Linked DNA regions of Homo sapiens. The protein of the gene in region 2 purifies or fractionates together with the protein of the main gene of each other region. This does not show direct contact. Each region holds a gene or a part of one and is shown on either strand. Other genes may lie near its edges.

Region 1 (3,658 bases), on a different chromosome or scaffold from region 2:
AGTCAAAGAATGGTAGAAGGGGGTTGATGGTTAGATAAGTGTTCAGAAAAAATGAAGTGAACCTATCAAAAGCATTAAAATGTAAGTAGGATGGACAAGAAAAATTAGCAGAAATCTTTGTTTAGCGAAAATACTAGAGGAAAGATTACTTCTGGAGGACACAGATCACCTATAATAATTATTATTATTTTTTTTTGAGACAAAGTCTCGCTTTGTCACCCAGGCTGGAGTGCAGTGGCGTGATCTCGGCTCACTGCAACCTCTGCCTCCTGGGTTCAAGCGATTCTCCTGCCTCAGCCTCCTGAATAGCTGGGATTACAGGCATGTGCCACCACGCCTAGCTAATTTTTTGTATTTTTAGTAGAGACGGGGTTTCACCATGCTGGCCAGGTTGGTCTCGAACTCCTGACCTCATGATCTGCCCACCTTGGCCTCCCAAAATGCTGGGATTACAGGTATGAGCCACTGTGCCCGGCTGATCACCAATACTTTTATACACACATCCCTAGATGACTGTGGTAAAACACTTCCAGCTGTTCAACCCACCTCCTCTTTCTATGTAGTCAACATTGATTAATTTAGCTTTTAAATTATCAATTCATTTTCTACAGTCTATGCTCTAATCCTCTACATAATTATGTATTATTTTCTCTTATGAATGGAAAATTAGGAAAATACTTCCGATAGCAACTTTAAAAAAGATCAGAATATATTCAATTGCTATATTCAGACTGCTGCTAAATCACTTCTTTCAGAATTGTTCAATAACAAAGCTCTCATGCCTAGTCCTCTTTTCAGTTACTGACTCACTTTTCCAGGTTTAAGACTGGCTTACATCCTTCCCCAATGCAGTAACATTCCTTTATTCCAGTTTTTCATATGGTAGATCAGAATACCAATTTCAAATGGTAGATTGAACAATCTGGTCCTAAATCAGAGTAACTTTAACCTTCATTTCTCTTATAAAAGTATAGCTATTTCTAACTTTACTTACCTTGCAATCATCTATATCTGATGAAGCAATGTTAAAGCTATGCTCAAAAATCTATTTCTTCATTGAGTCCAAGAACTTCAATTCTAACATATACAAGGAATTTCTCCTGTAAACAAAACTATATTGTCTAGATTCATTTTTTATATTCTCACAAGTTTTCAGGGTTGTCCACATACCTGACAGATCTCACCTGTTTATAACAGGTAGTTTTTGCCTCAGTCAGGCCTGATACTTACTGCCCTATATATACCTTACTTATTCCTAATAACACACTTGTGCACACATTCTTTTAATTAATTAGCTTGCCTTCCAGGTTTATTTCTATTTATCTTTAGAGAATCTTCAAAGAAATCATACCATTCCATGATCTCATAAACCCTTCATATGTTTCCCCTACCATTTTAAGCTCTACTTCTTTAAAATTTGCAATATAATTATTGCCTAGGAAAACTCTGTTAACAAATCTTTTAACAACCTTACACTTTGACATAAATATTTCATGAAAAATGCAGACTCGATAGTGATCCTTCTTCATAGAAATAAATACTTTATTGGTGATCTTTAAACTCTTTTGGGCTGGGCACGGTTGCTCATGCCTGTAATCCCAGCACTTTGGCAAGCCGAAGCGGGCAGATCACCTGAGGTCAGGAGTTCCAGACCAGCCTGGCCAACATGGTGAAACTGTCCCTACTAAAAATACAAAAAAAGCTGGCCGGGCATGGTGGCATGCACCTGTACTCCCAGCTACTCCAGAGGCTGAGTCAGGAGCATTACTTGAACCCGGAAGGCAGAGTTTACAGTGAGCTGAGATCGTGCCACTGCACTCCAGCCTGGACGACAGAACAAGACTCCATCTTAAAAAAAAAAATTTTACATGATCACTGCATACTCATAGTTAGGTGGTGTCTGGCAGAATGCAACCACTTCAAGCACAATCTGTAGGGACACAGCATGAGTAGGTACATCTAAAAGGAACTTGCTAGTATATGCTTTCTGAATGGATGAAAAGATATCTCCCTTACATAGCTCCATAAGCAATTAACACAGTAACTACTGAATACCTAACATGTTAAATAATACCACAGTAATGAAGGTTCAAAAGGGATCTTATCTTTGAGGAAAAGAATCCTTAAGAATGCTTGATTCCTTCAAAGAAATGAAGATTCAAAAGGGATCTTATTTTTGAGGGAAAGAATCCTTAAGCATCCTTAAAAATCCTTAAGCAAAAACAATTAGGAATGAAATTATATGACTATTCAAGAGTTGTGCATGTTTGTGTTATAGTCAGTAGTTAGGACAGGAATTCAGAAAAAAAGGAAGGTAGATATGATGTGCAGTAATCAAGGAAGATTTCACAGAGAAATCTTGAGACTTAAAAGATATAGTATAAAGGGAGAACACAACACAATGAAAAGTATCTATGTGATGACAAACCCTACATTCATGAACAACAATTAGGAGACTAGATCAAGTGGAAATTATCAAGAATTTTCTCCAAGAGAAAGTTGAAAAGACCAGATGAGGGCTTATTGTGACAGTTCCTGAAAGAAGAGAAATTTCCATTTCATAGAATAAATGATAAAAAAAAAGGGAAAAACTGATGGTATATTTTGTGAGGAAAGTAACAATATACATTGAATGAATCCAGACAAAATTTACCACAAAGACAAATGGTAATTCCAGTAATAAATACATGAAATAAGATAGTTGTCATTTTGTATGACATCAGTGAGAAATCAGAATATGGGAGGATGTCAATATATTTCACAAGCTGATAAACATATTACAAATTGTGAAGAGATCCATAAGAAATGATAAGAGAGACAGAAAAATCAAGTTGACTTTGTAGTAGAAACAAAATAAATTTGAAGGGATTGGGCACGGTGGCTCAGGCCTGTAATCCCAGCACTTTGGGAGGCTGACACGGGCAGATTGCCTGAGGTCAGGAGTTCAAGACCAGCCTGACCAACATGGAGAAGCCCCATCTCTACTAAAAATACAAAATTAGCCGGGTGTGGTGGCTCATGCCTGTAATCCCAGCTAACCAGGAGGCTGAGGCAGAAGAATTGCTTGAACCTGGGAGCCGGAGGTTGCGGTGAGTCGAGATCGAGCCATTGCACTCCAGCCTGGGCAACAAGAACGAAACTCCATCTCAAATAATAATAATAATAATAATAATAATAATAATAATTATTATTATTATTATTATTATTATTATTATTTTGAGTTAAATAATGGGAGGCCAGGCACGGTGGCTCATGCCTGTAATCTGAGCACTTTGGGAGGCTGAGGCAGGTGGATCACCTGAGGTCAGGAGTTCGAGACCAGCCTGGCCAACATGGTGAAACCCCATCTCTACTAAAAATACAAAAATTAGCCGGGCATGGTGGTGGGCACCTGTAATCCCAGCTACCCCAGAGGCTGAGGCAGGAGAATCACTTGAACCCAGGAGGTGGAGTTTGCAGTGAGCCGAGACTGAACCACTGCACTCCAGCCTGGGTGGCACAGCAGGACTCCATCTCAAAAATAATAAATAAATAAATAAATAGTGGGGAAAAATTTAAGAGCTGAGAAAGTCAGTGATTTTCATTTCTGACACATTGTCAGAAAATAGGTGAGATGATAGACTGTAGTACGCCTGATGAACTGGAGTGAAGGTAGGAG
Region 2 (2,667 bases):
ATGCCAAAGGAGAAGCCATGTTGTCAAAATGCCCACTTAACCCACCCAAACATCTCAAATCCACACTTTGCTGACCTTCTATAACCCCATTTTTTTAAGTTTTTTTTCTTTTTTTAAACACGAGAAAGTAGACAGATATGTGTTGGTAAATGCTAACTGTCCATATTGTCCCTTTGACCTACATAGAGACACAGTGTACTCTCTGAACCCAATATACAGAGAAAGGAGGAAAAAAGCTAGAATTCTATGCACTACTATACAGGGGCCTAGCATCCTCCAGCTTCCAGCAGAGCGAAGGGAGCAGGTTTTTCTTTTTCCCCACAGAGCTCGGTGGTGTTGATTCCATACAGTTTTTGTTCAGACAGGAAGGGATAAAAATGAACTTCGAACAGAAAAGGGTAGAGACTCTTTTCCCATTGTATTCTGCTCAAGGTATTTCCCCCCAAATAAGTTGAGAACCATGGAGTAGAGAAAAGAGAGCTGAAGAACAGGGTGACTGAGCACAAGAGAAAAAAAAAAAGACTGCAACTTGCTCCCAGGGCTGGAGAAAATTTTAAAAAAGGAAGGTTGGAGTCCATCAGTGTTCTATTAGTCATCTTCTCCTTCATCCTCCTCTCCTTCCTCCCCTTCATCATCATCTTCATCTTCTTCACCTTCATCCTCATCCCCTTCATCAATATCTTCTAATTCTTCCTCCCCTTCATCACCATCATCATCATCATCATCATCATCTTCTCCTCCTTCTTCATCATCCATATCAGGAACCAAGTAATACTGTAATGGGTTTGGCCAAATATCATCTTTGATGACCTCTTCTAACTCATCAGCACCTGCATCAGAATGATCAGTAAACCAGGTAAAGAAGCTCTCTGGTTCCTCATGCTGCCTCTTCCTGCTGGCTTTATTCTGCGTTTGACTTGAACGTTTCGTCACATCCTTTCCAGATTTCCATTTGATTTTGGTGGACTTTGAAGATGGATCACCACTCTCATTCAGATGAAATTCTTTGGAGAAAACTTTATTTTCAAAGTAAGGATTTTCATCAAAATAAAAATCTATTCTGTAACCTGATTTAATATCTTCAAATTCTGTCACTTCAACTTTAGTCAAATAATGCAGTGCCTCTTCGTCCTCCTCCCCAAGCAGTGAAGACACTTGTGGATGGTTGACAAATGTTGTTACCCCAAAATTTGGGATTTTGGCGATCAATTCTGACCTCTTCTGAAAAAATGGTTGGCGGAGTTTGTTATATTTCTGTTCTACTTTCAAAATCTCCTCACTGTCTTGTTCATTAAGTCTGTCTATTTCATTTTGTACTTCATCAATGTGTTCAATTGCTTCTTGCTGTTCTTTTTCTCCCTTCTTCGGCAAGCCTGCAGAGGCCGATGTCTCCTCCAGTCCCAGAGCAGGAGGTGGTCTTGGTTTCTTCTTTTGAAGTGGGAGTGGAGACTGGCGTTTAGGGGCCATGCTGTTAGGGAAGTCCAAGAACCAGACCATGAGTCTCCTTGCTCGTCTGGAAGCAGGCAGAACACTGTAGGATGTACTGTTAAATGAGGAAAAATAAGATGCAGAATACTAAATATAGTATGCATGTTACCTTATGTTTAAGAAGGGGTCATCTGAGTACATGGAATATATGGAATACACACATACATATACACATGCATTCTTTTTTCCAAGGTAATAAAGGAATTTACCCACTTTATTTCTAGTAGTATGTAGTTTCACTTTTTATATTTAGCTGTCTTATCCATTAAATTTTTATATATAGTTCTTTTTTCTTTTTTTTTGAGATGCAGTTTCACTCTTGTCACCCAGGCTAGAGTGCAGTAGGTTGATAATCGGCTCACTGCGACCTCCACCTCCCAGGTTCAAGCAATTCTCCTGCCTCAGCCTCCCGAGTAGCTAGGATTACAGGCCTGCACCACCACGCCCAGCTAATTTTGTATTTTCAGAAGAGACAGAGTTTCACCATGTTGGCCAGGCAGGTCTCGAACTCCGGACCTCAGGTGATCTGCCCACCTTGGCCTTCCAAAGTGCTGGGATTACAGGTGTGAACCACCATGGTCAGCGAATTTTTATATATAGTTCTTAAAAACAAAAAACAAAAACAAACACAAAAAAACACCACTCAGCTGGGCATGGTGGCACATGCCTATAGTTCCAACTACTCAGGAGGTTGAGACAGGAAGATCACTTGAGCCCAGGAGTTCAAGGTCAGCCTGGAAAACATAACAAGCTCTCTTGCTCTCTCTGAAAAGCTTTTTGCTTTTTTAAAAAAATTTATTGAGATGGAGTCTCCCTCTGTCGCCCAGACTCAAGTGCAGTGGCGCCATCTCGGCTCACTGCAAACTCTGCCTGCCAGGTTCAAGCAATTCTCCTGCCTCAACCTCGAGTAGCTGGGATTTGAAATTTTTCATATTAAAACTTTCATTTTTTGTTTTGAAACAGGGTCTCACTCTGTCACTCAGGCTGAAGTGCAGTGGCACGATCACGGCTCACTGCAGCCTCTAACCCCTGGTTTAGGCGATCCTTCCACCTCAGCCTCCTGAGTAGCGAGGACTACAGGCATGTGCCACCACACCTGGCTTTAATTTTATTTATTTATTTATTTATTTATTTATTTATTTATTTATTTATTTAGTAAGTAAGTAAGTAGAGACGAGG
Region 3 (3,658 bases), on a different chromosome or scaffold from region 2:
GATCACCTGAGGTCAGGAGTTCAAGACTAGCCCGACCAACATGGAGAAACCTCATCTCTACTAAAAATACAAAATTAGCCGGGTGTGGTGGTGCATGCCTGTAATTCCAGCTACTCAGGAGGCTGAGGTAGGAGAAATGCTTGAACCCAGGAGGTGGAGGTTGTGGTGAGCTGAGATTGCGTCATTGCACTACAGCCTGGGCAACAAGAGCAAAACTCCATTTCGGAAAAAAAAAAAAAATACAAAAAATTAGCTGGGCATAGTGGCAGGCACCTGTAATCCCAGCTACTCGGGAGGCTGAGGCAGGAGAATCACTTGAACCTGGGAGGTGGAGGTTGCAGTGAGCGGAGATTGCACCACTGCACTCCAGCCTGGGCGACAGAGACTCTGTCTCAAAAAAAAAAAAATATTTACATAGCACTTATACTGTATTAGATATTTTAAGAAATCTAGAGATGATTTAAAGTATGTGGGAGAATGTGTATAGGTTATATGCAAATACTACACCAGTTATATAAGGGACTTGAACATCCTCAGATTTGGGTATTGGAAGAGCTCTGGAAGCATCATCCTCAGATACCAAGCTACAACTATAAGTGGTTTTTAGTTAATTCTTGTTTGTTTTAATAAACAAAGTACAACCACCCTTTCCACCAAAAAGTAAGCAACCATGCCTGATTCTGCAGATCCCACTAATAAAGACACTTACTGCCAAGAATTTCTGTAACTGCTTCTCGAGTCACTAGTGTTTCTGTTTCCAAATACACAACAAATGCTGCCAAGAAGACCAAGCGCTGCAACACAAACCTCCAGTGCTCATGAAATCTGCATGAAAATAAGCACATTTAGCCTCCAAGGTTAGGGACCTTCAGAAAGATGGGTTTAATACAGCCATGTTCAAACGGTTTAGAAATGCGATCATTTTTCAAATAAAATCTTACACAAACCCCCAATATATAAAGAGAAATATGACATTTAGCATTAATTTTACAAGTTCGAATTTATAACAATTAAGTTTAATCAGTGACAAATATGGTCTAATTTTGATGAGTATGAAAATTTACGCCGGGTGCGATGGCTCACGCCTGTAATCCCAGCACTTTGAGAAGCAGAGGCAGGTTGATCAATCTGAGGTAAGGAGTTCAAGACCAGCCTGGCCAACATGGCAAAACCCCCTCTCTACTAAAAATACAAAAATTAGCCAGGCGTGGTGGCAGGCGCCCATAGTCCCAGCTACTCGGGAGGCTGAGGCAGGAGAACTGCTTGAACCTGGGAGGCAGAGGTTGCAGTGCGCAAGATCACACCACTGCACTCCACCCTGAACGACAGAGCGACACTCCGTCTCAAAAAAAAAAAAAAAAAGACAGAAAAAAGAAAACTGAAGATTACAGATGACAAGAGCAATTGTGCCTTCTAAATTTAATCAGTAAGAACAGTGATACTGCTCTGAAAAAAATAAAAATTTGTAACTGATGATTGAAGACAACTGCAGTTATGTATCATCCTCAACGTATTCCTCCATTTTGATTTGAGTGCAGAATACCAAGAAAATTCTGATTCACAAAATTACCATTTGCAATCACTAAACAAATGCACTTAAAATAGAATACTGAGCTAGAAGCCTGAAAAAAGGAAATTTTACAACCTGTGGATATTTATGCAATGCCTCCTGATTCTCAAATGTGGCAATACATTCAAAAAAAAGGTCTCAACATAATGCAGGTCACACAAACCCTTCTGAAGGCCAAATCCAGCCAGAGGGCAGCCTGTGTGTGACCTCCAGAGAAGATGGTCTCTAAAGACCCCACCTGTTCTACTGTCCTACCTCTCTCTGTGCTTCAGCTATTACAACAGCAGTCCCTGACCTTTTCAACACCAGGGACTGGTTTCATGGAAGACAATTTTTCCACAGAAGGGGGGCGGATGGTTTCAGGATGAAACTGTTCCACTTCAGATCATCAGGTATTAGATTCTCATAAGGAGCATGCAACCTAGATCCCTCGCATGCACAGTCCACAATAGGGTTCGCACTACTATGAGAATCGAATGCTGCCACCAATCTGACAGGAGGTGGAGCTCAGGCAGTACTGCAAGTGATGGGAAGCGGCTGTAAATACAGATGAAGCTTCACTCGCTCACCTACCGCTCACCTCCTTCTGTGCATCCCAGTTCCTAACAGGCCACAGACCAGTACCAGTCCATGGCCTGGGGGTTGGGAACCCCTGCCTTACAGCAAGGATCAGCAAATGTTTTCTGTAAAGGGCCAAGTAGTAAATATTTTAGGCTTTGTGGGACGCTTTCACTGTTACATATTCTTATCTGGGATTTTCTTTTTTTTAACAACTCTTGAAAAAACAAAAGCAATTCTTAGCTCCCAGAGGCAGCAGCCACTAGTGGTTTGTCAACCTCTCCCTTAAAAGAATATTCTCATAAGGTTATACTACCCACCCCCTGAAAATACTCATCCTATTTACTGCTGATATATACGTCTTAAAAGAACATCTTTTTCAGTAAGAAAATTAAAATAAGTAGAAACTTTTGATTCAGGTGCAGTTTTTCCCAGTTTAACACCTATGAAACCAGGAGACATTTCACAATCCATGTTTCACAAGTTGTTTTTTTTTTTTAGATGGAGTCTCACTCTGTTGCCCAGGCTGGAGTGCAATGGCACAATCTTGGCTCACTGCAACCTCCGCCTGCCTGGTTCAAGCGATTCTCCTGCCTCAGCCTCTGAAGTGGCTGGGGTTACAGGGATAAGCCACCACACCTGGCTAATTTTCGTATTTTTAGTAGAGACGGGGTTTCGCCATGCTAGCCAGGCTGTCTCAAACTCCTGACCTCAGGTGATCTGCCCACCTAGGCCTCCCAAAGTGCTAGGATTACAGGTGTGAGCCACCACGCCTGGCCCATGTTTCACATTTATGACTGGCAAAATTTTCCTTCCCTACTGGTACATAAAATAATGGTGTATCTTAAAATCAACAGTGTTGATTTTAATAAGAAAACATGGCATAAAATATTAGCTAATTACATCACTTGGCAGTGAAATTCAAGCTTCAAAGTAAAACTCGACTCCATATATATACTGCCACCTAATCTCATTATTTCACTAACTATAGTTCATCCAATTTCACAAGAAACTTGAATATAGCAAAAAGATATTCTCACTTTTGACCCTCATACCACATTTTCTTTTTAATTGCTTTTTCACTGCAAAAGTAATACATGTTCCTTAAGATTTAGACAGTAAAAAGAAGAAAAAAATAAAATCACCAATTTTTGTCATGACCATTATTAGTTCGGTTTTTTCTCTTTTTGTTACTTCTACACAGGATGTTTGCCTAGTTGTAAGCAATCATTTGGTACACATAATTTTTCTCCTTTTTTTTACTTAACATTATAAAATAATGCTATTTTTCTTACAAACCTGTAATACTGTTCAGCAGGAAATTTGGTCTTCAAAGATGTTAGATGTGTTTTTACTGTACCAAAATGTTCTCGAGCTTTCAAACACCTCTTTGGAACTAGTCACAAAAGATAACCAAATGAAAAACTTAACCAAATTTCAAATACAGTTCTTGCTTAATAATCTAAGTAATCTATCTGGAAATTAATCAACAAAAAAACCTCACAACTAACGTACACATCTGTGCTTTTC

What was found.
Region 1: the proteins of SETSIP (region 2) and ZNF567 purify together in Homo sapiens (co-immunoprecipitation; one large-scale study listed by IntAct). This does not show direct contact.
Region 3: the proteins of SETSIP (region 2) and TSN fractionate together in Homo sapiens (co-fractionation; one large-scale study listed by BioGRID). This does not show direct contact.

What each region holds. Positions count from the first base shown.
Region 1 is NC_000019.10:36,715,037-36,718,694, reverse strand, and holds part of ZNF567 (zinc finger protein 567), read right to left. Parts: intron 1-3,658.
Region 2 is NC_000001.11:92,073,945-92,076,611, forward strand, and holds SETSIP (protein SETSIP), read right to left. Parts: upstream 1,468-2,667; coding exon 589-1,467; downstream 1-588. UniProt on the Homo sapiens protein: Plays a role as a transcriptional activator involved in the early stage of somatic cell reprogramming. Promotes the differentiation of protein-induced pluripotent stem (PiPS) cells into endothelial cells and the formation of vascular-like tubes (in vitro).
Region 3 is NC_000002.12:121,758,576-121,762,233, reverse strand, and holds part of TSN (translin), read right to left. Parts: intron 3,525-3,658; coding exon 3,428-3,524; intron 826-3,427; coding exon 710-825; intron 1-709. UniProt on the Homo sapiens protein: DNA-binding protein that specifically recognizes consensus sequences at the breakpoint junctions in chromosomal translocations, mostly involving immunoglobulin (Ig)/T-cell receptor gene segments.